Linked DNA regions of Homo sapiens: all the other regions are linked to region 2. Evidence: fine-mapped expression QTL. A gene starts in region 2. Each other region holds a variant in brackets. All regions are shown on one strand. Distances are from middle to middle. Region 1 overlaps LOC101929707 (a long non-coding RNA gene). Region 2 holds the start of THBD (thrombomodulin). Region 3 overlaps LINC00656 (long intergenic non-protein coding RNA 656).

Evidence for each region. PIP is the estimated chance that this variant, and not a neighbour inherited with it, causes the effect.
Region 1: its variant is fine-mapped to the expression of THBD in whole blood (TOPMed, PIP above 0.99).
Region 3: its variant is fine-mapped to the expression of THBD in whole blood (INTERVAL, PIP above 0.99).

What each region holds. Positions count from the first base shown.
Region 1 is chr20:23,014,719-23,024,738 of GRCh38, reverse strand. LOC101929707 (a long non-coding RNA gene) reads left to right here. Exons shown (of 4, transcript XR_937352.2): 2 at 7,881-7,983. Among named protein-coding and RNA genes, the nearest start is that of SSTR4, 16 kb to the left of the region's middle. The variant G/A (reference allele first, on the strand shown) is at 5,602.
Region 2 is chr20:23,044,054-23,054,073 of GRCh38, reverse strand. It overlaps THBD (thrombomodulin), which reads left to right and starts at 4,402. Exons shown (of 1, transcript NM_000361.3): 1 at 4,402-8,441. The coding sequence starts at 4,570. The coding sequence ends at 6,297.
Region 3 is chr20:23,120,779-23,130,798 of GRCh38, reverse strand. LINC00656 (long intergenic non-protein coding RNA 656) reads left to right here. Exons shown (of 4, transcript NR_034149.1): 2 at 1,634-1,834; 3 at 2,070-2,170; 4 at 4,261-5,731. Among named protein-coding and RNA genes, the nearest start is that of LINC00656, 6.8 kb to the left of the region's middle. The variant A/G (reference allele first, on the strand shown) is at 4,557.

The sequences.
Region 1 (10,020 bases), 29 kb after region 2:
CCACATTCTACCTTATTTTTATGCTGAAACCCCACCCCAAAGGGAGCACGGAATGCATGGTAATACATCTGTGCCTATTGTGCGTGTGCTCACCTCCCCTCTCCACATGCATAGCTTTCCCCCAAACCTACTGAGTACATGTAACTCTATCGTGTGATACAGGCCCTGTGAGACATAAAATCCATTCTGCCCCTTCCCTCTTCAAAGAGAGAGCGCCAATGTCATATGCTGGAGACAGTCTCTTCCTGGTTTGCAAACTTATATTGCCAGTGTAACTGAAATAAATCCATGAACGAGGCACAGGGCTAGTCAATCCGCCAAGACACCAATTCACAAAGAGAAGGAGATTGAATCCTAGGACCCTGATCTAGAAGATGGGAAGGAACCTTAAATCCATCTCTCCAAGTGTACAATTCTCTCTGGGGCCTGAAAGCTTAAGGAGATGAATGACTCCTCCCTTCTCAGGCCCAGTCCCAGGGCGCAAGGCCACTTGTGTCAGCAGCGTGCATCAGCAAGTCAGCAGAAGCAGGAAGAGAGCCGGCCAGAAGACACCTACCCTGGCCGGAAGACAGGTACCCCTGAAGATCGAGAAAGAGGCCGTCTGTGTACAATGTAGCAGTTACATTATACTAGGACACTTCCTGTTTACAGGAGACTGTAAAACCTATGCCCCGTCCTCACTTGGGGCTGACTCCATTTTAGGCCTCAGCCTGCCTGCACGCAGGCACTCATTAGAACAGCATATTGCTCCACACTGCCTCCTGTTGTCTGTTGGCGTGCTCTGGGGGTTTGAACCGATACAAGAACCTTACACCGAGGAGTTTGGTATAAGGGATGTTAACGGTTTTGGAGTGGGCTGAAGTGTGGGGACGGTTGGTTGGTTGAAAAGTGCAGGGTGAAGTCATGGGATGGGGAAGTGGTGAAACTGTTTCTCATGCTGATTCTGTTCTTCTATGGGGGTCTTCATGCTGGTGGGTGTTTAGTAGGAATCTGGGATCTGGAAAACACCCTAGGCAGTTCTTAAACAAAAGCCTTATGATTCTAACATCAGAAATCCTATTCATAGGAACAATAGGGATGCCAGTGGTCAGTATCAGTGCTGCATGACTTTCAGTTACAAGGAAGTGGGTCAAAGTGCAGGCTGATTAATGCTTAATTATAACTCTATTTCTGTCCAGAATTCTTGCTAACCCTGTGAGGATGGCTTCACCAATAAAATACTCCTTTCTACTATTTAGCCATCCTAGTGGTCTTTTGAATGAAAAAGAAAGGCTGAGAAAGATGGAGTAGGGGCCTGCGGTCCCCCACCCCTCACCCCTCACCCCTCATTCACTTGCTGGTGCTCCCTTCAGCTCCCTTCAGCCCCCATCACTGGAGCTAGATGTCCATGAGCATTCTGCATTTTCTCTTCTTTCTGCTGACTAAAGAGTATCATGTTTTGCTGGTTTTTCTTCCATATTTGCTATTCTAAGGTGTTAGAAATGCTTAGAGCCAGAAAGACACACAAGAAACAACTGTGAAAGTTGATCATACAAATCGGGTCATTCTTATCATATCCAAATAAAACCGCCAAGAAGCCAAGAGGGAAAGGTGCTCAGGATGCATAACATTGCTCCAAGAATATAATTTTCTGCAAGCCTGGCTGCTGTAACCTGAAACCAGTTTTATCTAATAGCTGCTAAAATGACCTGCTGCAACTCTAAGACCAATTATACCCATTCCATTACTTACCAATCAAAAGTTGCCACCTCACCGGAACTGTACTAGTGCCAATGAACTTTCTCAAAGAGCAATACATAACACTTCTCTTTGTTATAAAACCTCCAACCATCTCTTTGTTCTTTAGACACACCGAAAACCACCCAATATGTGGTCTTGCAATTCTTTCTTCCCAAATAAAATGTTAAATTTAGAGGTTCATCTTTACCTTTTAATTCTTTGACACAACCGAATAGGACAAAGCAATGCATTTAACTTGTTCAACTGTTGATGAAATCATTGCAAAGGCAGCTCTAATTTTTTTTCAGACCTCAGTCTACTGACAGCATGAACAGAAAGAGAGGGTCTCTTTCTGCTGGTGCTTCGGTTTGAGAACCAGTGCTCCTGACTTTGGTTGGCCATTGGTGTCTGTCTGAAGAGGGTCTCCACTGCCCCCAGGCATGTTCCTTCTCTCACTGCTGCCCCCTGGGATGGAAACTCGACATCCCCTCTTTCCCTTCCTACTGGCACCAACGGTACCAGAGCAAACCCCACAATCTCCATGCCTACATTTCTTTGACATCCACCTGTCACCATCTTTGGAGGATTCAAGTGAAGTTCTTTGTCTTTTATGGGACAGAGATGATTCTCCACTCCAGAGGGTCTGGAGTGATTATAGGAATGTAATCGCCTTGAACAATCAGCGTGTTTTACAGCCTACTGCCCTGCATTTTGTGTGGAATGCAGTTGTCTTATTGCTTGGAACCAGCTCTCAGTAGACCTCAGCAGCTTATAGACAAACCCGAGTGAACTTTCCTCATGACCATGCTAGTGTCTCCATCCTGGGATGAGCCACAGCTTCATCACCATAACATGCAACCTATGTGCTGGTGTGATGACTCGCTGTGTCTGCACCACTGAGGCTCCTCCTCCACATGCCATGACGCGTCCTCTCTTCTCTCCATCTCCCCATGAAGTCCTCCTGTCACTTTCCCTCAGGGAGACATGGCTTTGGAGAGTACTCCCAACAGCATGCTTATTTGTGCCAAGTAATAAAACTCCTGTTGATCAAACCTACAGTCTCAAGGAGATTGATTTCTTACTTGCCAAGCAAAAGAACCTGGGTTTTTTTTTTGGGGGGGGGTGGTAAAAATAGTGTCTAATCCACATGTGCAATTAGCATTCCAGTAGACTTACACCATCAAAAAGATACTCTTTCTTCTGTCCTGCAGGGTGCCTTCTCCTCTGTCCTGCCATGGGTGAGGCTGCCTGGACTTAGGGGAGGCACTACCTTCCCTTTTCTTTGCTTTGCCTGCCTCACTGAGCAACTCTGAGGTATTACGGAGATGCCTATCTTTCCTGGTAATTTTAGCATTGTTACAATGTGCAGATCTGGACAATACTTTGGAGATGCCAAATACACAAGATAATGGCTGTTATTTTAAAGCTCTTCCTCCTCTGCAAATACAAGTTACTAAGATAATACAGAGGGCTTCACTATAACAGGTGTGGCTTTGGATGTATAAACAGTGCAATATACCAGAGTCTCTTGATTAGCTTGAAGTGCTGTGGGCTGAAATCAGGACCTTAGATCTCTGCCAGGGGTGGTAAATGTGCTCACTTTTCCTTCCAAACAATGGGTGGTGAGCCTGAAGGAAATGCCTCCAGAAAAGCTTACTGCTGTGCTACAACACCTTGTCTGTGTTTTAAAGGGCCACAATGGAGGCCCTCCCAGTCCACATTTGACTTCTCCCATGTATACTTTTCTTTTGAGATATGTTTATGACTTATTTGCGAGTTATTAGAAATAACACAACTGTTAGAAATAACACAGTTTCTTAAAAATATCTGTTTGTGTTAAGTTTCCAGAACTCTGTGACCGTGTTCAAGAGAAGACTGTCAGTAACGATAGCTACAAACCACACTCTATTTTCCGAGATCTTTTTGTTACGACAGACTTGCTGTCTAAAACCCTGCTTGGCCCATAGTGTTACTGGAAGGAGGTCCTGATCCAGATCCTAAGAGAGGGTTCTTGGATCTCACTCAAGAAAGAATTCAAGGCAAATCAATAGCGTAAAGTAAAAGCAAGTTTATTAGGAGAGTAAAGGAATAAAGAATGCCTACTCCATAAGCAGAACAGCCCTGAGGGCTTCTGGTTGGCTGTTTTTATGGTTATTTCTCAATTATATGCTAAACAAGGGGTGGATTATTCATGGGTTTCCTGGGAAAAGGTTGGGCAATCCCAGAACTGAGGATTCCTCCCCTTTTTAGACCATATGGGGTAACTTTCAGACATTGCATGGCATCTGTAAACTCTCATGGCGCTGGTGGGAGTGTCTTTTAGCATGCCAACGCATTATAATTAGCATGTAATGAGCAGTGAGGACAATCAAAGGTCATTTTCGTCACCATCTTGGTTTTGGTGGGATTTGGCTGGCTTCTTTACTGCATGCTGTTTTATCAGCAAAGCCTTTGTGACCTGTTTCACGTGTCAACCTCCTATCTCACCCCATGACCCCTTAACCTTCTGAGAATGCAGCCCAGTAGGTCTCAGCCTTATTTTACCCAGCCCCTATTCAAGATGGAGTCGCTCTGGTTCGAATACCTCTGACAACAGCCCATCTGTTCAATACGTAACTATTTAATTAAGTAAATTCCTGCATGTCTAATTAGCTCCTGTGAGTAGTTCATAGGCCTCGTTCCCTTTCGCAGAGCTGGGGTTCTAGGATTCCACGGAGTAGCAGAGACCTCTGCAGCCTTCTGGGGAAATGTGCTGTGTTTCCGCAGGTACTTCCCTCAGCCCCATACAGCATCAGGACATTCTCCAGGTGCTCCTGGGTAGGAGGGTGCCATGAGGGCTGTGGATTGAGTAGATGTGGGCTGTGGGACTGTGGGAACCTGTCTCTGAGCATCTGATTATCTGACTGCCACCGTGCAGGTGGGAAGGAGAAGCTTTAGAGTCTAGTGTTTTACCGCAGGTAAAGTCTAGTGTTTTTTACTGCAAGATATAGCAATCTTTTTTTTTAAAAAAATGTAATTCATTGAAATAAGCCTTCCTCAAAAATTCAACATGAAATGACAGGTGCTTTCTCATCTGTCACAGGCATCTCATGACTGGCCATGTTCAGGCCTTGGGCAACGTGTTTTTCTGCATATTTCGATAAGCCTTAATTTTGTGCTTTTTCTCTTGAATCTGACAACCAAGACACTAAGTTTTGTCAAAATAACCTGCGCTTATGAATTGCAGAATTCTAAAAAGATACAGGCGATTTGTCAAGAGCCCTTGAACAGCATAAAGCCCTTTTACCCGAGTCAGCATTGCCTCAGCCAAATCCCTGCATGGAACGACTGTCTGCAGCCAGCCCCTGGCACCGACTGTCACTGCCAACGAGTCTTTGCAGCGCAGGGCTATTTCCTCCACTCAGGCTGCCTCTGTTCACAGGAGAAAGCAGGTTCCAGGCTGCAGCTGCTGCATCCTGTCCCAGAAGGTCTTGCTGGGCATTTGCACTGACAGCCACTGAGTGGCACTCATGGCGTGGTGCCTGGCTCTTGAACTCCTTGCAGCTCTGGGGGTGCCTTTGGATGTTACTAGGGTAGATGGGGGAGCCAGCTTGCAGGTATCATGATCCTTCAGACCAAGGAGAGCCACCTTCCCAGAAAGACTCCCCTGCTCCCTGCAATGAGTGACATGGACCCACAGCGGGTCCTTTTCTCCTGTCTCCTGGAGAGACCCACTCTGGGGGTCATTCATGCTGTCGTCATGCAGTGGGGCTCATCCTGGCTCAGCTCTGTTCCCCATCCCCACCCTCTTCCCTTACCGTCCAATGAACACGAATGCTGGCCCACGTTCTGATTCTAGAAACCCAGCCCGGAACGCTGCCCTTATAAAGATGAGTCCAGAGC[G/A]AAGCCTCCTGCCAGCGTGTGTGTGTGTGTGTGTCTGTGTGTGTCGAGAACACAAGGCCAATGGTGTTCAAGGAACAAGTCACCACCCACTTCCCAAGTAGGGTTGTCAAACTACAGGATACTTGGTTAAATTTAAATTTCAGGTAAACAATCAATCATGTTCTAGGATAAATAAGTCCCAAATATTGTATGAGACGATAGTTTGGAGCTTACTTATTTTTAGTTTATTGCATAAGCTAAAAAACCACTACTTATATAAAATTCAAATTTAACTGGGCATTCTGTGTTTGTATTTGCTAAATCTGACAACTGTACCACTGTGTTTTTTGAGTCTGTGTCTATTTTGAATTGATGCAGAGCTTAAGAAAGCATTTGCAGCCACTCAGCTTCTCCTCATGAATAATAATTGTAGTAGTAGTAGTAGTAATAGCAATACCAGCAATAGTAATAGGAGTAGTGATAATTATAGCAACAGCAGCAGTAGTGACAGTAATAATTATAATAGCAACAGGTGCAGTAGTAATAGTAGTAGTAATAATAACAACAACAGTAGTAGTAATAGCAGTAGCAGGCATATTAATAGCAGCAGTGATAGTATTAAGTACAAATAATAATAGAAGCTAGCACATATTTAGTGCATCTTATATTTCAGGCAGTGTTCTGAGAGTGTTACACATATTAACTGATTTGATCCTCCAACTTCTCCCTTCCCCTGCAAGGTAGGGACTATTATGATCCACATTTTACAGATGACACAATAGAGGTCCTAAGAGGTGAAGTGATTTTTCCAAGGCAGCACAGCTGATAGACAGTGGAGTGGGCTTCAAACTCAGACAACCCAGGGTTCATGCAGTCTCTTAGAAGAGTCAGATTGCATGAGTTTTCCAGAAAAGTCAAATCATTTCCTGACCAAGGCCTAGGAATCTTTTTGGAGTGAGTAGGGATGGACAGGGAGTTGACCCCTTCTCTCTGCAGTGTCGCCGGTTTCTCATCCTGATCCTGCCCACATATAATGCAGGCATGTCCTCCTCTCTATTGTGTCTTGGGAAATTAACCTAAGCTTGTCATGAGCACCAGTACAGTCAGCTTCTTCTCTGGCTCCCTGTCTGGCCTACTCCCTGGGCTCTGGGTTTGTGGCAGGTACTACTCGTTTCCCCTCTGGTGCTGGAAGAGGCTCGTTCTGGCCAGGGAAGCACAGGGGTCTCTAGTATCCAGGTTTCTTCAACACTTATCAGTTAAGGAGGTTTGCATTCTTCCTCCAAGCACTCTGAAGAATATTCTCTGTTCCTGCTTTCTGCAAGTCTAAAAAGGTCACAGGTGGCCTGGCTAGCCCTCCCAGCCCTCTCAGCATCTGTGAAGGGTCTCTGCCTTGCTCTCCAGTTAGAACTAAAAGAGGGGAGCTGCAGCTGTGTTCCCTTCTGAGCGAAGGATGGAGGGGGGTTGTGTTCCCTTCAGAGCCTTCTGAGCACCTCCCCCCACCCCATGTCTCAGCACCTCTCTTCACTTTGCATTCCAGAGCACAGCTTCTTTTGATAGCTTGTTCAAAACCACTGCTGAACAAACACAACTATGATAGCAGCTAAGGATGGTTTCACAGCCGAAAGAATAAGAATGTGGGCATGGGAGTCCAGCTGACCCAGGTCTGATTCCTGGCTGACATTTGCCAGCTGTTATCTTGAAGCCATAACTTCTCTTCTCTGAGCTATGTTTCCCCTTCAGTAAAATGGGTATGATCTTTAAGGCATTCCCCTCCTTGCAGGGCAGCAATGAGGCTGAAATGAGGGGGACGTTTAAGTGGTCAGCGGGGGCCTGCAGAAAGGTCTGGAAAGGAGCTTTTCAGTTCTGGAAGAGACAATACTTGGAATGACCTGCTGTGAGCTGCCCAATTTTTTCAGGGTTTCAACTAAGGGCAGGCCCTGGTCTGTGCCACTCTGGGAAGTTAACACCCTGATCAATAATTTGCCTCTTTACTGGCATGAAGAACCAGAGGTCAAAGTTGAGAGGACCACAGCTGCTAGGGAGTGAGAATCCTGAGAAAAGGAGTCCAGAGAGGGGGTGCATGAACTCTGCTCGCTTCCCTGACCAACCCTTGAGCCACACAGGCACAGAGCAGGCGCCAGGCACCCAGCTGAGGATCAGGGAGCTGACTGCATTTGCTCTCTTCCCTGAAAAAGAGGGTTTCCAGTTTGAGCCCAGCTGAATTATTTTCCAGCTAAAACAAATAAGCAAGCTAATAAACAACCATTAGCATTGTTCTTAGAGGATAATTCACTCCACAGCATTCTGACCACAATGCCAGAAGACAATACGGAATTACTCAGTACATGAAGCACCAGGAAGATGACAACAGAAGAGAGAGGACCCAGACATTGGAATCAGCAGGTGAGGATGTTAAAGTGACTATTGGCTGTATGCTCAATGAAGTAAAGGAAGACATGCTTATAATAAACAAAAAGATGGAAATTCTAAGTGGAGAGAGAGAAATGATTAAAAATAGAAATTGGAGAACTTTAAAAATACAATGCCTGGAGTAAAGTTATTAGAATAATGTCAGGCACTCAGCAAATAGGTAGATGTCAAAGCAACGTGGAATGGAAGACATACTCAGTTTTATCAGAAAGGAACTACAGCAGAATAGAGTATACTTTTAGATAAAAATGTTATTCAGACGTCATTGATTATGAAGAAGCCTGTCTTTATGAAATTGAATTCCTCCTGAACTATTTCTTACAAAACACTCTTTCAGCAATTGGGCCATATTGAGCTGCACTTGAAGCCTGCTGCCTCACTGAATAGTGGGATCTTGGTGGGGGTAGGTGGAGGGGGATTGCAATTCATCTAAAAGCTTGTGGGTTTTGTGGCAGCATGGTAGAGAGAAAGAATACAGACTTTGGAAAGAGATGCTCATTCAAATCCTAGGTGTCTTTACCAGTTCTGTGACCCTGGCCCAGACAGTGTGTATATTTGTGCCTATGATTTTATTGTTGTTGTTGTTGTTTTTAATCTAGAAGGTAGATATTTTAGAAGCTGTGCTTATAGACTTGTTATGAGGATTTAATATGAACATTCATTGTAGTATGAGCCTGGCATATCATATCACCTCCTCTGTGTCTGTCAAATTTAACACTTTCTGAGATGTTTCAGATCCCTGGGGATTTTGTAATAGGCCCTTGGCTGAGCTTTAGCTGGGTCTCCGCAGGAACTTAGAAACTCCACACACAGACTGATGGGAGGAGGGACCTTTAGGCCTCCATTTGCAGGAACTGCTTTGCTCGGGCACCAAGATCAGCCCAGGACCAGGCAGAAGCCTGCCATGGGCAGCCTCAGCTTGAGGGCCACACACCTGAGGCCTGGGGAAGGGGAGCCCAAGAGCAGGTTCTGAAGAGGCCCCTTTTAGGATGAGCCCGATCAGATAAAGGGGAGGGAACTAGCCAACAACACATCTTTAAGGCCCTGGATAATAAAGTGTGCCCCAGTGAGGTAGGAGGTGGGACTCAATTCTGGAGATAGGTCTCAGATGTCAGACCACATTGAGGACTAGTTAAGACAGGGATGGAGTGGAAGTAGCTTTCCCTAAGATACATCCACCAGTGTGCCATGTGAGTTTACCATTGCCATGGCAACATCCAGAGGTTACCACCCCTTTCCATGGCAGTGAGCAGATGATCCAAAACTTACCATCCTTTTTCTAGAAATGTCTGCATACTCTGCTTTTTAATTTACATGTAATTAAAACTGGGTAAGAATGTGAGTGCAGACCTGCCTCTGATCTGCTGCTCTGGGCACACTGCCTGAAGGTAGCCCCACTCCATGAGGAGCAGAGCCTCTGATGCTGCTGTGCACATCTGCTTCAAGAAAATCTACTGTTTAACATCACAGACTGGCCCTTGAATTCATTCCTGCACGAAGCCAAGAGCCCTCTCAGGCTAAGCCCCAATGTGGGGCCTTGCCTGCCTTGTATCACCAGGGCAGGCTGTGGACCTTCTCTGTGTTCTGAGAGCAGCCCAGACGGTCTCACCTGGGTGGCTGTGCCTCCCTGCCACCCCCAGGCTCTGCAGCTTTAGGAGCACCTGCCATGCTCATGGTGTTCCCCATCCTGGGAGTGAATGCTGGGCAGTGAAGTGAACATTCGCTCCCTTTCTATTTCTCCATTGTTTTCCAGGCCCTGGCAAGAGAGCTGGAAGCTGGGGTTAGCAATGGATGCAAGGCAAGCATATTTAAAAAATATTTTTGCTATAACTTTAGAAGAATTAGAAATAAAGATTGAAATCAAAATACTCAGGTGGTAACATTTCAGCTTTTAGAAGAGACTAGGGGCCAGACGCAGTGGCTTACACCTGTAATCCCAACACTTTGGGAGGCCGAGGCAGGTGGATCACCTGAGGTCAGGAGTTCGAAACCAGCTTGGCCAACATGGTG
Region 2 (10,020 bases):
GGACTTGAGTGTTTTCTTTTTTGCTAAAATTTATTGAGAGCTGACTACGGCTCCTCTGTTCTAAATGCTTTACATGTATAACCCATTTAATCTTCATCCTAACACTTTGAAGGAGGGACTATTCCCATTACACAGTCAAGGAAACTGAGCTACACGGGGAGGGGTTATTAGTCAAATCTTAACAATAAACAAAAACTTGTGAATGCCGGAGCTGGGTCTCCAGTGCAGCCAAGTCGGCTCCAAAGTCCACACTCTTAATTCACCCTGAGGCTCTGAGGTCCCCCATCCTTGTCTTTGCAGGTGAATGTGAGAAAATCACCCTGGAGAGGACAAAGAAACATCTACCACAGGTGCTCCAATAAGCTCTGGGCACTGTCTAGTTACAAAGCGTGCTGTTAGGTGTAAGGGGATACAAAAATGTGTGGGAATCTGGAGTATAAGTGCAGCAAAAAGTGTGGTATATGCATGATTAGGTACAGGGCAGGGAGGGAGTGGTGAGTACTAAAGAGCTGAGAGAACGACCTGTCTATGGGAATCACAGACAGATCAGTTCTGGTTGGGTTATTCAGAAAACTTGCTGATGGGGAAGCTTGAACTGGGACTTGAAAGAATGGAAAGATTTCAGTGGGTGAAGAGCCTGGCAGACGAGAATGTTGCTAGCAGAGGGAGAGACATGAACTACAGGGTGGAGATGAGCGGACAAGGTGCTTCTCTGACAGTGAGCAGGAGCCTCCCTTGCCAGGATGTTTCCTCATTCATGGAGACCAGCAGAACACTGGTCCTTGAAGCCTTGTGAGGTGCAAGGGGTGCAGGCTCTGGGTCCAAATTCCAGCATAGCCCCTTGAGTGCAAATTTTCTCATCTGTGGCCACAGAGTAGAGGCACTATCGCGAGCATCTTCAGTGCGGAGGGGAAAGAGTATGGGCTCTCCCAGCGGGTGGGAGCAGCACTGAGGGAGTATGAGGATCAGAGTAGCCTCAGCCACGGTGGAGAGCTGGAGAGATAAGCAGCAAGGAAAAGAGCTGGGGACCCAACTGTCTCAGCATAAATTGAGAAGGCAGGAGCAGTGATCAGGGGAAACAAGACACAAAAACTAGGCAGTGGATGAAGGAGAGCAGAAAGTCAAAGGCAAGTGCATGGTTTAAAACCTCAGTGGACCAACTATTGATACTGGGAAAGATGGGGTAAGGGTCCCTTCTAGAATACTCCCTCCCCAATCTCCTTGGACACTGCTATCACTGCCAGGGGAATGGGTAAGTTCACCAAAAGGTGGGTTGTAAAGAGATGATGAAGACCACCAGCAAAACCTTGAGAATGGCCACTCTAGTGGGTGGTACAAGAGGATCCCAGGGGCCTCCCCAAGGCTCACAGGAGAGGAAGGGAGGAAAACATGTGTCTCAAAAGTAATTGGAGGAGGAGCCTTGAGAATGGTGAAGGGTCACAAGTGCAAATGGCACCAAGGCTTCTAGAAGGATGGCTGAAAACAAGATTTTGGCAACAGTATTTAGGACCAGATGGGTGTTCTTCAAGGGAGCTGTTTCAGGAGTAAAGCAAGTCTGCTGGTGGGCCAGAGTGAGGGTGCTGGGCCAGGAACTGGGCCAAGCATTGGGAAGTGGATGTGTTATCTGCAAAGGGATAGGAAGGAGTGGCCCACCCTGGTGTGCAGGGGGCACAGATAGGAAGATAGGGATGGGGCAAGAACACAGACAGGGGACCTTCAGTCACCAGAAGGTAGTCTAAAATATGCAAAGCCTCCAAGGTATTGGCTGGAGAGGAAAAACAAAGCGGCTGAGGGCAGGCCCCACAAGGCAAAGGTATCCTGAGGGTCAGGGGTAAAGCCCTTACAGGTGGGAAAGCCAAGTGGGTCATGTCCACCCATCCTTGTGTAGGGCAACCCAGACACTGTGGTACCCCCCATGGGACAATGCTCTGCTTCTATCTGTTGTTGCTCTAGTTTCTTTCTAATACAGAAACATCCAACATCTGCACCTCCTCATATAGGGTTGATCCAAGTTTCACAGACATCACTGAGTTCTTAGTGGACTCAGCTATTGGGGCTGTTCTCACACTTTTTTTTTCTTTGCAAGAATCAGCAATGGGTGCAAGTGGACCTGTGTAGGACGTCCAGTGAAACATTGTGTTGGTGAATCAGCTAGAATCCATCCAAGAACTCAGCCAGCCTGGTGTGGGGTGAGATCTGATCCTTGAATGTCCCTCAGTGGCTTTTAGGGCTGGCAGGTTCAGAAGGGCCCTCTCATCACCCCCCCAGGGCCTCATTCCTTGTTTAACACTTTGCTATCACAGTCTTGAATCCTTGTAATTGAACAATGGACCCCACATTTTCACTTTGCACTGGTTTCTGATTCTGTAACCGATCCTGTCCCCCTCTCTTGTCTCATTCACTCTGGGAATTGTCCCCACATTCTGAGACCTTTCAGCAGTGCCCCAACGAGGTTCCTGCCCTTATCTGAAGCTCCACCCTCACCCCCATGGCGGCACCGCAGGCAGCCCTGCTTTTGCGTCCCGCGTAGGCAGGCTGTGCACCGGAGTCACGACCCCCTGATTCAGCCTAGGCAGCCACAGCTTGACTGCTCCCGCCGGACAAGCCCTACTGTGCTATCTGCCGCTCTTCCCTTCCTCTTCCCAGGGGGTCCGCGTCAGGGGAGGCGCAGCTGTGTGCATTCCGGGAGCTTCAGACCCCCGTGTCCAGCAGCTCCTTCGTTTCCTGGGTGCTGGGGCGGCCTTCCCAGCGAAGAGCTCAACTCAGCGGGACGTTTGGAGGCTCTCTGCCCCAAGGCGCTGGGGAGTGTGCGGCGGGACAGTCGTGCTTGCCTTTTTCACTTTCAGAGTGTCCACGCCCCACCCGTTTGGTCACTGCAGGTCAGTCCAGTCCAGCCCGGCCCACCCCACCGGTGCGTGTCTGTCGCACGTGGCAGACGCCATACTCTCTGTTCTTGTTTAAAGCCCAGGATCTACTGGGCCCTGGAGGCAAGAGGTGAACGCAGCGGAATCCACGCTGAGCTGCCCGGGAACGGAGCTTCCAACCCCAGAAGGAGGACTCTGTGCTCCTACACCTTAACCCTTTTTAGCCCGAAACTTCTCCAACTTCCTTGGCTTTGTTTAGAGCTCGACAGCGCCGCCCCCTGGCGCTCGTTGTGAGGACAGTAGAGGAGAGAGGCAAGGGTGTTTTTAAACAGTTTGCCTCTCACCATTATGGGGGCGACCCGAGGGGGAGACCCACTCTTCCGCATTCCCGGTAAGTGAACCACCGGAAGAGGTCGAAAGTGACGGATTCCCATGTCCTCCTCCAGCCCCCCCCCCACCCTGCCCATCCACAGGACGGTGGCTCTTCAGTGCCCTTTGCCGAGCAAGTGGCGTTTCTATGCACGTGGGTATCAATTCGGACTCTGGACGAAATGGAAACCTCCTTAGCCGACCCGGGTGGGATCAGCTGGGATCCTGCGCGCTCCCCTGGGGGGTTGCCAGCCACTCTGTTGGGGTGCAAGAAGCACCATCCTTCGGAAGCTGGGCCGAAACTGGCCAGGCTGACTCGCTCCCACGCGCCCGCCCCTACCCGGCGCCGCAGCAATTCACCTGCCACCGCCTCTGAGCCGGGTCCGGACTTCGGCGCCCTGACAGTGTCCCCGCGACTTCCCCACCCGATGAGATGGGGTCTGGCGTTGGCCAGTGCGTGTCCAGGGACTCGCGGGTCCCTGGCCAGCCATGGGGCAGAGGGCGCTGGTGTTAGGCCAGTCTTCCCCACCCTGCCCCGTCACCCCAGCCACACCCACTGTCCTGTGAGGCCAAGCGCGCTCCGCTGGTTTCCTGAGCCAGGCACCTTGGCCGCGGACAGGATCCAGCTGTCTCTCCTTGCGATCCTGTCTTCGGGGAAGTCCACGTCCTAGGCAGGTCCTCCCAAAGTGCCCTTGGTGCCGATCACCCCTCCCAGCGTCTTGCAGGTCCTGTGCACCACCTCCCCCACTCCCCATTCAAAGCCCTCTTCTCTGAAGTCTCCGGTTCCCAGAGCTCTTGCAATCCAGGCTTTCCTTGGAAGTGGCTGTAACATGTATGAAAAGAAAGAAAGGAGGACCAAGAGATGAAAGAGGGCTGCACGCGTGGGGGCCCGAGTGGTGGGCGGGGACAGTCGTCTTGTTACAGGGGTGCTGGCCTTCCCTGGCGCCTGCCCCTGTCGGCCCCGCCCGAGAACCTCCCTGCGCCAGGGCAGGGTTTACTCATCCCGGCGAGGTGATCCCATGCGCGAGGGCGGGCGCAAGGGCGGCCAGAGAACCCAGCAATCCGAGTATGCGGCATCAGCCCTTCCCACCAGGCACTTCCTTCCTTTTCCCGAACGTCCAGGGAGGGAGGGCCGGGCACTTATAAACTCGAGCCCTGGCCGATCCGCATGTCAGAGGCTGCCTCGCAGGGGCTGCGCGCAGCGGCAAGAAGTGTCTGGGCTGGGACGGACAGGAGAGGCTGTCGCCATCGGCGTCCTGTGCCCCTCTGCTCCGGCACGGCCCTGTCGCAGTGCCCGCGCTTTCCCCGGCGCCTGCACGCGGCGCGCCTGGGTAACATGCTTGGGGTCCTGGTCCTTGGCGCGCTGGCCCTGGCCGGCCTGGGGTTCCCCGCACCCGCAGAGCCGCAGCCGGGTGGCAGCCAGTGCGTCGAGCACGACTGCTTCGCGCTCTACCCGGGCCCCGCGACCTTCCTCAATGCCAGTCAGATCTGCGACGGACTGCGGGGCCACCTAATGACAGTGCGCTCCTCGGTGGCTGCCGATGTCATTTCCTTGCTACTGAACGGCGACGGCGGCGTTGGCCGCCGGCGCCTCTGGATCGGCCTGCAGCTGCCACCCGGCTGCGGCGACCCCAAGCGCCTCGGGCCCCTGCGCGGCTTCCAGTGGGTTACGGGAGACAACAACACCAGCTATAGCAGGTGGGCACGGCTCGACCTCAATGGGGCTCCCCTCTGCGGCCCGTTGTGCGTCGCTGTCTCCGCTGCTGAGGCCACTGTGCCCAGCGAGCCGATCTGGGAGGAGCAGCAGTGCGAAGTGAAGGCCGATGGCTTCCTCTGCGAGTTCCACTTCCCAGCCACCTGCAGGCCACTGGCTGTGGAGCCCGGCGCCGCGGCTGCCGCCGTCTCGATCACCTACGGCACCCCGTTCGCGGCCCGCGGAGCGGACTTCCAGGCGCTGCCGGTGGGCAGCTCCGCCGCGGTGGCTCCCCTCGGCTTACAGCTAATGTGCACCGCGCCGCCCGGAGCGGTCCAGGGGCACTGGGCCAGGGAGGCGCCGGGCGCTTGGGACTGCAGCGTGGAGAACGGCGGCTGCGAGCACGCGTGCAATGCGATCCCTGGGGCTCCCCGCTGCCAGTGCCCAGCCGGCGCCGCCCTGCAGGCAGACGGGCGCTCCTGCACCGCATCCGCGACGCAGTCCTGCAACGACCTCTGCGAGCACTTCTGCGTTCCCAACCCCGACCAGCCGGGCTCCTACTCGTGCATGTGCGAGACCGGCTACCGGCTGGCGGCCGACCAACACCGGTGCGAGGACGTGGATGACTGCATACTGGAGCCCAGTCCGTGTCCGCAGCGCTGTGTCAACACACAGGGTGGCTTCGAGTGCCACTGCTACCCTAACTACGACCTGGTGGACGGCGAGTGTGTGGAGCCCGTGGACCCGTGCTTCAGAGCCAACTGCGAGTACCAGTGCCAGCCCCTGAACCAAACTAGCTACCTCTGCGTCTGCGCCGAGGGCTTCGCGCCCATTCCCCACGAGCCGCACAGGTGCCAGATGTTTTGCAACCAGACTGCCTGTCCAGCCGACTGCGACCCCAACACCCAGGCTAGCTGTGAGTGCCCTGAAGGCTACATCCTGGACGACGGTTTCATCTGCACGGACATCGACGAGTGCGAAAACGGCGGCTTCTGCTCCGGGGTGTGCCACAACCTCCCCGGTACCTTCGAGTGCATCTGCGGGCCCGACTCGGCCCTTGCCCGCCACATTGGCACCGACTGTGACTCCGGCAAGGTGGACGGTGGCGACAGCGGCTCTGGCGAGCCCCCGCCCAGCCCGACGCCCGGCTCCACCTTGACTCCTCCGGCCGTGGGGCTCGTGCATTCGGGCTTGCTCATAGGCATCTCCATCGCGAGCCTGTGCCTGGTGGTGGCGCTTTTGGCGCTCCTCTGCCACCTGCGCAAGAAGCAGGGCGCCGCCAGGGCCAAGATGGAGTACAAGTGCGCGGCCCCTTCCAAGGAGGTAGTGCTGCAGCACGTGCGGACCGAGCGGACGCCGCAGAGACTCTGAGCGGCCTCCGTCCAGGAGCCTGGCTCCGTCCAGGAGCCTGTGCCTCCTCACCCCCAGCTTTGCTACCAAAGCACCTTAGCTGGCATTACAGCTGGAGAAGACCCTCCCCGCACCCCCCAAGCTGTTTTCTTCTATTCCATGGCTAACTGGCGAGGGGGTGATTAGAGGGAGGAGAATGAGCCTCGGCCTCTTCCGTGACGTCACTGGACCACTGGGCAATGATGGCAATTTTGTAACGAAGACACAGACTGCGATTTGTCCCAGGTCCTCACTACCGGGCGCAGGAGGGTGAGCGTTATTGGTCGGCAGCCTTCTGGGCAGACCTTGACCTCGTGGGCTAGGGATGACTAAAATATTTATTTTTTTTAAGTATTTAGGTTTTTGTTTGTTTCCTTTGTTCTTACCTGTATGTCTCCAGTATCCACTTTGCACAGCTCTCCGGTCTCTCTCTCTCTACAAACTCCCACTTGTCATGTGACAGGTAAACTATCTTGGTGAATTTTTTTTTCCTAGCCCTCTCACATTTATGAAGCAAGCCCCACTTATTCCCCATTCTTCCTAGTTTTCTCCTCCCAGGAACTGGGCCAACTCACCTGAGTCACCCTACCTGTGCCTGACCCTACTTCTTTTGCTCTTAGCTGTCTGCTCAGACAGAACCCCTACATGAAACAGAAACAAAAACACTAAAAATAAAAATGGCCATTTGCTTTTTCACCAGATTTGCTAATTTATCCTGAAATTTCAGATTCCCAGAGCAAAATAATTTTAAACAAAGGTTGAGATGTAAAAGGTATTAAATTGATGTTGCTGGACTGTCATAGAAATTACACCCAAAGAGGTATTTATCTTTACTTTTAAACAGTGAGCCTGAATTTTGTTGCTGTTTTGATTTGTACTGAAAAATGGTAATTGTTGCTAATCTTCTTATGCAATTTCCTTTTTTGTTATTATTACTTATTTTTGACAGTGTTGAAAATGTTCAGAAGGTTGCTCTAGATTGAGAGAAGAGACAAACACCTCCCAGGAGACAGTTCAAGAAAGCTTCAAACTGCATGATTCATGCCAATTAGCAATTGACTGTCACTGTTCCTTGTCACTGGTAGACCAAAATAAAACCAGCTCTACTGGTCTTGTGGAATTGGGAGCTTGGGAATGGATCCTGGAGGATGCCCAATTAGGGCCTAGCCTTAATCAGGTCCTCAGAGAATTTCTACCATTTCAGAGAGGCCTTTTGGAATGTGGCCCCTGAACAAGAATTGGAAGCTGCCCTGCCCATGGGAGCTGGTTAGAAATGCAGAATCCTAGGCTCCACCCCATCCAGTTCATGAGAATCTATATTTAACAAGATCTGCAGGGGGTGTGTCTGCTCAGTAATTTGAGGACAACCATTCCAGACTGCTTCCAATTTTCTGGAATACATGAAATATAGATCAGTTATAAGTAGCAGGCCAAGTCAGGCCCTTATTTTCAAGAAACTGAGGAATTTTCTTTGTGTAGCTTTGCTCTTTGGTAGAAAAGGCTAGGTACACAGCTCTAGACACTGCCACACAGGGTCTGCAAGGTCTTTGGTTCAGCTAAGCTAGGAATGAAATCCTGCTTCAGTGTATGGAAATAAATGTATCATAGAAATGTAACTTTTGTAAGACAAAGGTTTTCCTCTTCTATTTTGTAAACTCAAAATATTTGTACATAGTTATTTATTTATTGGAGATAATCTAGAACACAGGCAAAATCCTTGCTTATGACATCACTTGTACAAAATAAACAAATAACAATGTGCTCTCGGGTTGTGTGTCTGTTCACTTTTCCTCCCTCAGTGCCCTCATTTTATGTCATTAAATGGGGCTCACAAACCATGCAAATGCTATGAGATGCATGGAGGGCTGCCCTGTACCCCAGCACTTGTGTTGTCTGGTGGTGGCACCATCTCTGATTTTCAAAGCTTTTTCCAGAGGCTATTATTTTCACTGTAGAATGATTTCATGCTATCTCTGTGTGCACAAATATTTATTTTCTTTCTGTAACCATAACAACTTCATATATGAGGACTTGTGTCTCTGTGCTTTTAAATGCATAAATGCATTATAGGATCATTTGTTGGAATGAATTAAATAAACCCTTCCTGGGGCATCTGGCGAATCCCAGCTGTGTGTCCGGTGTATGGTTTGGCATTATCTCCTCTGCGAGATATCCAAATTCACTGTAGTCATGAAGGGTCTCAGTTTGTGGCTCTCATTCAAATATTCATTTCTAAACGTCTCATCCAGTATGAAATCATTCTCATCTCTTTTGGAGATTAACAACATCATCTTTTCAATGCACACGTTTCTTGGGCTCACTTTTCTAAGGTGGTAGGGCTGGCTGAATGCAATATGCAGGGCTCGGAAAGATTTTTTAAAGAAGAAATTAAAAGCAAGTAGAGTCCAGGCAAATATTCAGATGCTTTATATGTCTGGATAATGCTGAACTCATGAGTTTTAGTTTGACTGATTATTGTGAAGACCGGGTTGGAGATTTTGACATCCATCGCAGAAGAAGTAATGGCTTTAGTGTGTGTGTGTGTGTGCTGGGGAAGCTCCATGCACAGTGCCCTATGGAGATAACAAGCTGAGCCATGCTCCCCCTAAGTAGCAGACTAAGTCTTTGTGAAGGAAGAGCTACACAAATGGGGGCAGGACAGGTGCAGATAAATGGGGCTGGGAGACCAGAGGAGACAGTGACACCTTATAGTTCGCCCCCTGTTACCCAGCCTTCTGTTTGTCAAAAGAGTCTGCTCCCAGTCACTGTCAAACTGACTTGTAGGGCCTCATTGCGTTAGGATTTCTTCTTATTCCAGAAGAGGGGCATTTTCTTAAGGAACACTGGAAGACCAAAACACACTTTCAAAACCTAGAGGCAAAAACCCTTCATGCAGCACTTGGGCCCCAGGACATTAGTTGTGCGGGGCCCTGAGCTTCCCTGTCCTCCTCACTTCCTGCTGCCTGGGGGATCAGCAGTTCTGTTTATAGGTCTCATCTGAACTTGAGATTCTCAAAACGCTAAATAGCCATAGTGCCTCTCAGGGAAAGATACCAGGACCACATAAACAAATCAGTTAGCTTTAAAAACTATCCCTGAGAATTTAAAATCAGGATAGACCTTGTGAAACCAGAGCCATGGGTCAACCTGTGTGATCTCTGCTTTCTGTTCACATCATTGGACATCCAGGTCTGAGGGAGACTCCCAGGGACCAGTTGCTGGTGAAATTTCATAGCACAAAAGTCCGGGGCAAGAAAGCCAAGGTGGTATTTCTGGATAAGCCAGCATTCAAGTTTGTTTGTTTGTTTGTTTGTTTGTTTTTCCTAGCCTGCTGTTTTAAAGTAAACAGAATGCATTTTTTTAAGTCAAATGACTTTGTTATTTTTTTTTTCCAGTTCTCACCTATTTCTTAGATTAGTTCAGCAATTATTTACTGAGCATTTACTCTGTGCCTTTCATAGTGATAGGCACAATGACAAGTCCCTACCATATAAGTTAGACTCTGGCAGGGGAGAAAGATGCAAAACAACTGATCACCCCCAAATTGTACTTAACTTAGAAACAGTGATAAGTGCAGGGGAAGAAAAGCACAGCACACTCTGAAAAGGCGCACGAGGAAGGCAGGATTTAGAGTGGAGGACTAGAGGGAGCTTCCTGGACAAGCTGACACTTAACACCAGACCTGAAGGGGAAGGAGGGGTTTGT
Region 3 (10,020 bases), 77 kb before region 2:
AAGTGTGAAGTCTGGGATGTTGGGTGACTTGGAGAGTGGCCCTCTTTGGGTTTTATCCTCAGCTCTTATGAAATTTTGGTGCTTCAGGGACAGTGTGTCACAGGCAGCCAAAAGCGCTGGATAAGCAAGAAGAGCCATTTGGAACTTTCTAAGTCTTATGCAAGTTTTGGCAAAAAAAAGAAAAAAGCCTTCCTTGCTACTTTTCAGGGAGGTCGATACTAACATTTGCCCCCCACCCAGGGTGTGAACTGGAGGCATCACTGCCTGGATGAGTGCCGGGGGCTGTGGAGGGTCCTCCGATGTGACTCTCATTCCCAGCATTTTTAGGCCCCATGTCTGTGTGGGGTGCCCAGCCTCATGCATCCCTCCTGTCCACGCCCAACTTCAGAATTACCCAAAACACCCAGCAGAAGGCTGCACTGCTTCGAAACTCTTCTGCTCTTCCACTCCTGGTTCCAGGCCCCCTGCTTCCGCCTGCTGCTATAGTCCACCTCCTCAGAATGCCCACCGTGTCTGTCTCCCTGCAAAGCCCACTCTGTCAGCTCTCAGCAGCCTCAACAGGGCTCAGGCTGCGTGCTGTACCCCAGCTATGCCCCAAACACCTGGAGGGTACCGCTAAAGCCTTCCGTGCCTCTGCCTTCCCACCATACTTGGTGGACTGAGCCTGGGCCAGGAACTGGGAAATGGCTTCCCTTTGGTCCTGGACTAGGGAAGGGAACTGACCCCGGGGGGGCCTATGGGTTGTCCCCTGGAGGCCAAGGTGGAAGGTGTTATCTGCCTTTTATGGACCAGAGTCTCAGGAAAGTTCAACCCCATTGCCCAGGCCACAGTCTGGCTGACATCAAGGCCCTGTGTCTTGCTCACACTCCCGGCTGGCCCTGTCCATGAGTGACACTGTAGGGTGAGATTTGTGGTTTGCAGCCTTTTTGTTTTTTTAAAAGCATTGAAACCCCTCTTATACCTAATACTACCAGAAGCCCCTATAAAAACACATAAACATAACATTGACCTGCCTGGGTTGAGAAGGGGCCTTGCACCCACGCACCTGCTCACCCTCACCTCTTCTCCCAGGGTCATCCCGGCAGGGGTCTTATCCGCACAGTTGGAAACACTGGGCTGGCCAAACTCCACCATTCCTTCCAGTGCTGATGGTCTGAGTCTGTTTCCTGAAGTGTGGCCTGAGACCACTTGCAGAAAAATCTCCTGGAAGTGTGTTACAAAGACCCCTTTCTGGAGTTCCTGCTTTCCCTTACAGTCAGATGGGAAGAGGAAGCAGGGATGGTATGCAGAAGGAAATCTGTGGTTTACAGCCTGTGTAGTGTTTTAGGCCAACTCTGGTTTGAGAACTATTTTCTTCTGACCTCCATGTCTTATCAAAGTAGATAAGAAAAATATTCCATGCGAGACATCAGCATTAGGCAAAGAATGAGAATGGAGTGAGGACACCGTGAGCAGCTGGGTGGCCCCTCTGCAGCCAGGGATGGTGCCACTGAGTCTTCTTGTGGTGCTGCATTCCCTTTATTGGAGGGTAACTGGGGAGAAGGCATGTCTCGGGGCCTCCGAGAAGGACTGTGCCCTGGGAGGCCTTCCCTCCCTCCATTTCTCTATCCTCTGCCTTGTCCCCACTTTTCAGGTTATTTCTGCCCTTCACGGTCCCACTCAAGTCCTGCCTCCCTCAGGGAGACCTCCCAGACCTCACCAAGCCGTGGGCACGTGGACCAGAAGCCGTGGACCCCAGAGGCTCATTTAGGGATCTGCTTTCTGAACCCAGGTCCTAACATCTGCACTGCAGCGAGCATTTCTGGTGCCTCAAGTGAGTCACTCCAACTTCCAGGTCAGTGCCCGGCACACGAGGGGTGCTTTTATTAGAGGTATTAGGTGAGGCCTCCCTGCAGGCAGTCCACACCCTCAGCTCCCAGATTTCCACCAGGGTCACCCAGTGGGAAAGGGCAGCTGCCTCTGCATCCCCATGAGCCCAGCTCGCCCTCTCTAAGGGACAGGGACCACCAGCCTCACAGTGGTGGGTGGCAACACCTGGTCATTTTCTGTCATTCTCCTGTCATGATCAGCTCACTGAGAGGCGATGGAGCACTGAGTGCCAGCATCTTCCAGCACCAGAGGAGCTGACTCTGAATAGACAGCTCGGCAGCGGCCTCAGCACAGAGCAGGGGTAAGGGTGGGGCCCACCTGCACTTCCTGGCCGCCTGTTCCCTAAGTGCATATTGATTGAATAGCGCTGCCTCAGAACTAGGCTGCCTGAGTTTGAATTAGGCGCTGGTGTTAATTAGCTGTGTGATCTTGGGTAAGTGACTCAATATATCTGTGCAAGGGGGATAACCATATGGTCTTCCTTATGGGGTTCTCATGATGATTAGTTCATAATATAAAGTTACCCCCCCACCCCATGCAGAGATGAGGCGGAGGGGCTGCCACCAACCAGGATGACGGAGGAAAGGGGGAGATGCTGAGCAGGCTGAGGGTTTCGTGGCTGTCCCTGCTGCTGGCTTCACAGTCTTCTTCCCGCTGTGCCACTGCCCATGCCAAAACCACATTCACCATCTATCCATGCAGCAGGGTGACCTGCAGTGCATGGAACCCCTGGACCCCTCGGCCTCCCAGGGCCAGCCTGCCCCATCCCTCAGCCCGGTCACTGTTCCCAGGCTTTAGGCCCTGTAACTCTGGCCTGTCCAGCTCATTTCCAGCCTACAGACCTCTCTTGGGTCCCCAAACCCTTACTTAGGCCCCAGCCAAGGCAGAGCCTGGCTGTCTTGGACCCTGCCTCTCCCTGCCCAGTGTCCAATAATCCACAGCACTCCCTTCCACAGCCATGGGCCCACCCTTGACAAGGGCTATGTGCCCTGGAACCCGTGCCTCTCACCTTCACGCCAAACTCCTCCTTTTCCTAGACCCCTGATTCCCAGCGGGCCGAGGTCAAGCTGCCTTGCCTAGTTTCTGTCTCCTGTGGCCCCTCGATGCCAGCTCCTCCCTGGCCAATCCCCATTACCAAAGTCCCCCATTCTAACTTCCAGTGCCCAGGCCCCAGTCCAGGCATCTCCGGGTCCATGTACTAACTGCCATGCCCATGTGACCCGAGTACCAACCTCTGCCCACTCCACCTGGAGTTAAACCTCCTGGCTGTGCTTCGGCCAGGCCAAGGGCCCTGATGTGCTGTCCCCAGCCCTTAGTGGCCCACAGCCCCTGGGTTTCCCTGCGTTTTGTGCCCCCTGCTCACATCCTGCTCCGTGAGGCCTGCTGGCTCTGATCTCCAGCCCAGGCCTGGCCCCGCATCAGGGCCCCTTTTCTTCCCAGGCTCATGGCTCCCACTGGTCCCAACTCAGGAGTGAGATTCCTCAGAATCCTGTGGCCCAGACTCCTTTCTTCTCCCACTCAGGCAGCCCCCTCAGTCCTGACTCCTTGGGGTCCCCTTGGTCCCCACCTCTTCGCTTCCTTTGATGCCTCCTTGCCTCTCAGCTTAACCTCTTTACTTTGCTGCCCTCCAGGAATTCTTGATTGTCCCTGACCCCAGCTCAGTCCCCTCCCCGAACCCCACCAAGGCAACCCCCCAGCACTCCTGCCTGCCCTCCCGCATCAGCCCTGATCCTAGTGCCCAAATCACTCTAAGTCCCCTTGCCTTCTGCTATAGCTGTATCTGGTGTTCTAGAATCTTCTGGTCTCTAGTTTTTCTTCCCTCCAGCCTGGCCCCTCAGGTCCCTGCAAGGCAGGACCTGAGCTCCCTAGGCAGGGGTCCCCTCTGCATGTACTCCTGCCCCCTCATTTCTGAGCCCAGGCCCTCAGGCAGGCCCCTCCTGTTGGAACATCTCAGGTTCAGCCTGTGACCCTGGACCCCCAGCGTCTGCCAGGCCCACGGGAGCTCCAAGCTCTGGAGACAGATCCAGACTTCCCCCAGGTCCCCTTTCACCCCAAAGCCACATTGTTTCCATTTAGAGCAGTGGCTGTCAACAGGGTGACACTGGGTGACATCTGATAGGTTTTGGTTGTTGCTCAACACCCTACAGTGCCCAGGACAGTCCCTATCACAGGCAGTGGTTGGCCACAAATGCCCACAGTGGCGAGGTGGGGAGACCCTGGGTTTGAGTGACAGCCTAAACCCAAGGCCCCAGGCTCCCGGGGGTGGGGGCGGAAGGCCAGGAACCCCTCATGTCCTGAGTAAAGTTTACATGTGGTTAGGCTTTGCCAGTGCCGTCCAGTAGTACTTTTTGTGATGATGGACGAGTTCTGTATCTTCATTGTCCCGTACAGGAGCCACCAGCCACAGGCAGCCACTGAGCCCTTGGCATGTAACCCGGTAACCCATGCAACAGAAGACCTGAGCGTCCAGTGTTGCTAGCTTGAAGTAACTTCAGTGGTGTTCCCCAGCGTTTTTCTCATCCCCCTCCCTTCCCTTCCCCTACAGCTTTCTTCCTCTTTCCCCTCCTTCTGAGTCTTTCGTCCCCAGTCCTGGGAACCTTTTTTCTGACTTGGTGTTTTCTCCTGAATGCCTCCTTCCTGGCCCCCTAATCAGAAATGCAGAAGCCACCTGCCCCACACAGGGGGCC[A/G]CTTTCCCTGCATCTGGCACTCACCAGGACAGTCATAGAACTGGCCTTGGGTGCTTGGGGAGAGTGGAGAGGTCTGGGGGGCATCCACTGGCCTCAGCCTCAGAGCTTCTCATCAGTAACCCAGGAGGCAAAGGCCCAGCTCAAGATTAGCCCAGGCCACTGTATCTGTGCCAAGACCTACAGCTGTCCCTGCAGGGCGTGCATCTCTGCAGCCCAGGCTATCACAATGGTGTCCCTTTTGGTGGGGATGTGAGGCCTGCTGCTGCCTGGGAAGAAGCTGACAGGATTGTTGGTGCTGTGGGGAGAAGCTGGTGTAACTGAGACCCATGAGGGAGGCCCTTTGTGGGTCTGTGGCTGGGAGGAGCTCTGGGGAAGATGGGCCTTGAGAAATCCCAGCTTAGCACCTTTGACAGTTGCTCCACTGAGTCACCCTAGACTGCAATCTCACAGATGTTCTAACCACCCTCTCCCTGGGGAGCCCTTGGGGGTGCTGCAAGCCCAGTCCTCACTCACTGGCTTTGTGCTTCTCTTCCCGACTTCCTTTTTTTGCTCCTGTTGAGAAATGTGGGTCCAGGGCTGCGTGCTCCAGTGTGCGGAAGGAAGGGCAGCGTGCTCTTTGGACTGAGCTGGCTCAAGGGAAGCTGGGTCTGAGGGGAGACTGACCTCGACCCTTCTTAAATGAAACACCTTTTCCCTGCGTCTCAGTCACCGTTACCTGGCCTGATCACTGTGTGCCACACCCCATCACATCCATCCCCACAAGAATGCCAGGAGGAGGGGTCATTGGCCTTTTTGTCAGCACAAACCTCTGGAGGCCCAGCTCCCAAGACCCGCCAGGCACACCTGCCAGAGTGCCTTAACTTGGGATGTCTGCAAACCTCTGTCCATGGCCGAACCCACCCCACTGCCTGTTACTGTAAATAAAGGTCTATTAGCATGCCACCATGCCCCTCCTCCGATGCATACAGTGCCCAGCTCAGCACCTGGTGCAAGTAAGCACAATCTGGCTTCCAGCCATCACTGCTGTTGCTACTAACACAAATATTAGGCCCCTTCTAGAATGCAAAGATAACCCAGGGCTGCTCGTTCTGTGTCCAGATCACAGAGTTTTTCTTTTTATCCTTATCAACTTTATTGAGGGATAATTTACAGGCAATAAATCATATCCATTTAAAGTTATTGTCAAGCTTTTAAAGAATTAAAGTTCGTCTTCTTCAGAAGCTTACCGAGGACTACAGGCTGTGGCGTAGAGCCCTGGAGCAGCCTCCACTGAGGTTCTGTATTTCAGGTCACAGTTGACATATAGGTGGGAGGTCCAGTACGTGCAAAGTCACATGAAAGCTTGGGTGTCAGAGTGCATCAGGTTATGGATTCAATTACAGAGCAATAATCACTGACCCTGTCAGATGTTATCTTACGTGTAGGAAAAGGTAAGACCAGGGCCATTTATCTGCAAAGAATATAGTGACTCAGGCAAGAGTCCGGAGAGGGTGTGTGCTCCATCCTGTTTTGTCTTCAGAGCATCTTTCTGGGGAGCTGCACATCGTTATAGAGACAGGCACTTTGTGAAATTCTGCTGCCAAGCACAAATGAGCAAACGTGGTTTCCTATGTTTACTACTTTGTCTCACAAAGCGCACATTCACAGTGCATTATTAAGGGGCCCTGGCAGCACCGCCACAGTGTATCTCTGCTCCCTCTTAAAGTTCCCCGTGCCCCTTGGCAGACAGGCCCCTCTCACTCCTGGGCCCAGGCTACCATTGACCAGCTTTTTGCCACTAGAGGTTAATTTTCATTCTATGTGATTGGAATCATACAGATGTTCTTGTATCTGACTTATTTCACTCCACATAGTGATTCTGAGATTCAAATGTTGTGTGTATCAGTTGTTTGTTCCTTTTTATTCCTGAATGGGAGAGGGGATGTCAAGCTGCACAGTTTTATTCCTGGGCTACAGTGGAGATGGATGGTTCTACCGTCTCTCTGAAACACCATCTGCAGTTTCTTCAAAATCTACCTACACATCTTCCATCCCATCCTGAGGAGTCCCCGAGGGTTGAGAAATGCATGACCCCACACCTGGCTGACGTGTACAACTGGCGGAGTTAGTTTTTCCTGTTGACACTGGCCACGGGCGCCTCAGCATGCACAGCCCTGGCCTTGCTCCTCTAGGCATGCTGGGGGCTTGTCCACACGTGTGGTCTACGGATGGAGGAGAGTGGCCTCTGGCCCATGCGTGCCATGCACTGGACCTTCCCAGGGAATCAAGTTACATGATGTTTCCTTGAGGAGCTACATACAAAGTAAAAAACTGAAATCAAGAATATCAGTCATTTCTGAATATGCCAATTCGCCCATGGTGCAGTTTGTACAGCTTAATCACTGCAGAACAGTTTTGAGGATAAAATTAACCAAAAACCTAAGTAGACAAAATATTCAAATTTTTGGAATCTGTCACAAAAATCCACAGATGACTTATTTTCCATTGTAGCTTATAATGTCCAAAAGCCTTTCTAGTGACTTATAACTGATGGTGAGCTCCCACTCTGTGGCAGCTGTGGGACACTGGTCTAAGGACTACACCCTGATGCCTGGTGAGTTACAGAGGCCATGAGAAGATGTCAGTGAACCTGAAAGCCAGGGAGAGGCTGTGTTCCTGCCGGACTGTGGGGCTCCTTCGCTCCCCTGCTGTGGCCCTTGGTCAGGCCACTTTCCCTCTCTGGGTGTCAGTGGCTTCATCTACGAAGTGATAAAAAACTAATGCAAACCAGAGCAAAATGAGATAACACGGGGACCCCTAATGTCCCAGGGAGATGGTGAACTGAAGCACCGCGTGCGGTGAGTTGTTGCTGTCTCCACCCCTCAAGGAGACCGCAGCTTTGCAGACGTGTGGGTCCCATCATCGGCCCCATTCTACATTCCTCCCTGTGTCCCTGCCATCGCCAGGTGACTTTGCTGGGCCCTCCCACCGCCCTAACTCCCAATCCCAAGATCTTCAGTGAACGTGACGCGCACAGCAGAGGCCCAGAATGTATGTGTGCATGTGGTGACAGCTAAGCCTGCCTGGAGCAGAGCCCCAACCCTGCAGCAGCTCAAACAAGCTGAGATCAGCAAATGCACATCTGACTCTCAGACATGGGGGCAATAATAATAAATGCTGTTTGAGTTTTGGGGTCTTTGGCTACACAGCAATTGCTCACCAATATGACAGGGTTGTATGACGTGGCCATGCGGAACTGTATTATAGGGGAAGTGGTGAACAGTGTGATGAGATTTTAAAGAGGAACAGATTTACCACTGACTTTAGAAATCATGGAGGAGAAATCTCTGGGGTTGCCCTTGAAGGGTGTGTGGAGGAGGACATGGGAGAAGGGGGAAGAACCGTGGCATCCTGGCTAAACAGACACAGGGCAGAGGGAGCCTCTGTGTTGGGACTAAGATGGGGATGTCGGGGAAGGGACATGGCAAGCTGACTGTTGGTGGGGAAGGCACGTGTGGGGCTATATTGTGATCATTGTGATGTATATACATTGTCACCTCCTACTGTCTCTGAGTCCGGCTGTCCCAAGCCCCCGCCGTGGAATCCAGCAGTGTTCGGGCCAACTCTCAGAACCTTGGCTTTGTCTGGGGGACCCCTCCCAGACCACTTCACCTGCAAGCCCTCCCACACGGTGACATGACAGCCCCGCTGTCACTGCACATGATGGAGGCCCATAGGGTGGCCGACCACACTCCTGCCAGGTTGTGGGGACCTCTGCCCAGGCGCTGACCCTTTGCCCAACTGGGCAGTGCTCCAAAGCACTCAGAGTAGGAGTGCAATCATTTTTCATTCTTAGATTCAGTAGGCACACTATTTTGTCCAATTTCCATCCTTGCTTCATCATGTTAACGAATTGTGTGGACCTGTGGTGGCTCCAGGCACTGCTTGGCTTAGCATAGGCTTAGGGCACAGACTCAGGTCAGACAGGGCTGGGTTTACATCTCACTCTCAAATGGTAAGATCTTTTTTTCTGGTAGGGGAAGAAGAATTAGTAAAAATCTCTGAAACTCAAATCACTCTTGCTCCAAAACCACAGGAACACGTAGATGCTCTAGTTGACATATGAACACCCCGTAAATGTCATCATCAGGGTTGCTAATCAGCTGTACGTAGAGAGGCAGTGCTGGTGTCATCAAAAGCACAGCAAAAATAACAACAACCTGGAAGCGAGGAATGGATTCAGATCCTTCTCTCAGAAGGGGCTTTGTCCTGCCGTCGTGACCTCTGCTCAGTTCCCCAGGACAGGTGGGGGCCTGCAAGCCCAGCAGGTCCTCCAGGCTACCACCCTCCCCCTCTGCAGCCCCCACCACCCCCACCATCCTGTGCCTGGCCCTGGCTCACCAGCCCAAGCTGACCACCAGGCAGGTCTCAGCAGCAGTGCTCTCCGCTGGAAGTCGGCTCCTGCTTCTCGGGAGGCCTGAGCTCAGAGATGCAGGATACAGAAGGCTTCAAACTCCTGCCTTTCTGTTAAGAAAAAGGCTCTTATCTCTTGAGGAGTCACAATTCAGATAAGAGGCATCCAGCAGCAGGTTCCAGAGCTGGGAGGCCCGAGGAAGTGCAGCTTCTTGCTCAGGCATGGGACGCACAGGGGCGCTGGGCAAGCATCTTTTTGTGGATACACATGCCTGGTGACAGCAGTCCTGGGGGTGGGGCGGGGCATGCGGGGGGCAGGAGGGGAGGAACCCAGGAGCCATCTGCCCGACAGAAACAAGGCCTGCCGCACAACATCCAGGCGCAGGGGGCTAGTTCCGAGAGGAAAGTCTGCTTTCTTGGATTTGGGGCAAGTTTCTCATGTATCTACTTCTTCATCTGCTGATTTCTGTGGTGAACCTCCTCATCTGGCAAGATAAGGGGCAGCTTGAGAGATGGAGGGGGGGATGGGGTGCAGGGTAGGAGGAAACCAGAAGCAGGTCCTGAAAGCTGCAAGAAGTCGGTGCTCTAGGAAGGTGCTTGAGGTCTAGGCTGCTTGTGCTGGGAGACAGAGTGAGGCAGGACAGAGCCCAGACTGTGGCTTTGGTGGAATCCAAACAAAGTTAGCGGGTTTTGGCTGGGGGCGGGGGGTGGTGGCTGAGAAGAGAGTGTGCCCTAAGGAGTTGGGAGTGTCATGGGAGTCAATTATTTAATCAGCAAATGTCTCCTGAGGGTCTCTCCTGTGCCAGCCCTGCAATAGCTGTGCTGTGCAGAAGGTGAGCAAAACCAACCAGTGGGCTCCCAGCCCAGGGTCCCTGCTGGCGACAAGTTGTCGGCTACCACCACACGCATGCTTCTCCCCACACGCGTGCTTCTCCCTAGCCAAGCAGGAGGCAGTGGAAGAGCCTCTGGGAACCTTGTCCTTCAATGGGCAGTTGTGAATCATGGCAGAACCCTTCTTGAGAAAGGCAAGGTTGGAAAAACTGGAACCTGCCCTCGCAAGGCTCAAGTTGGA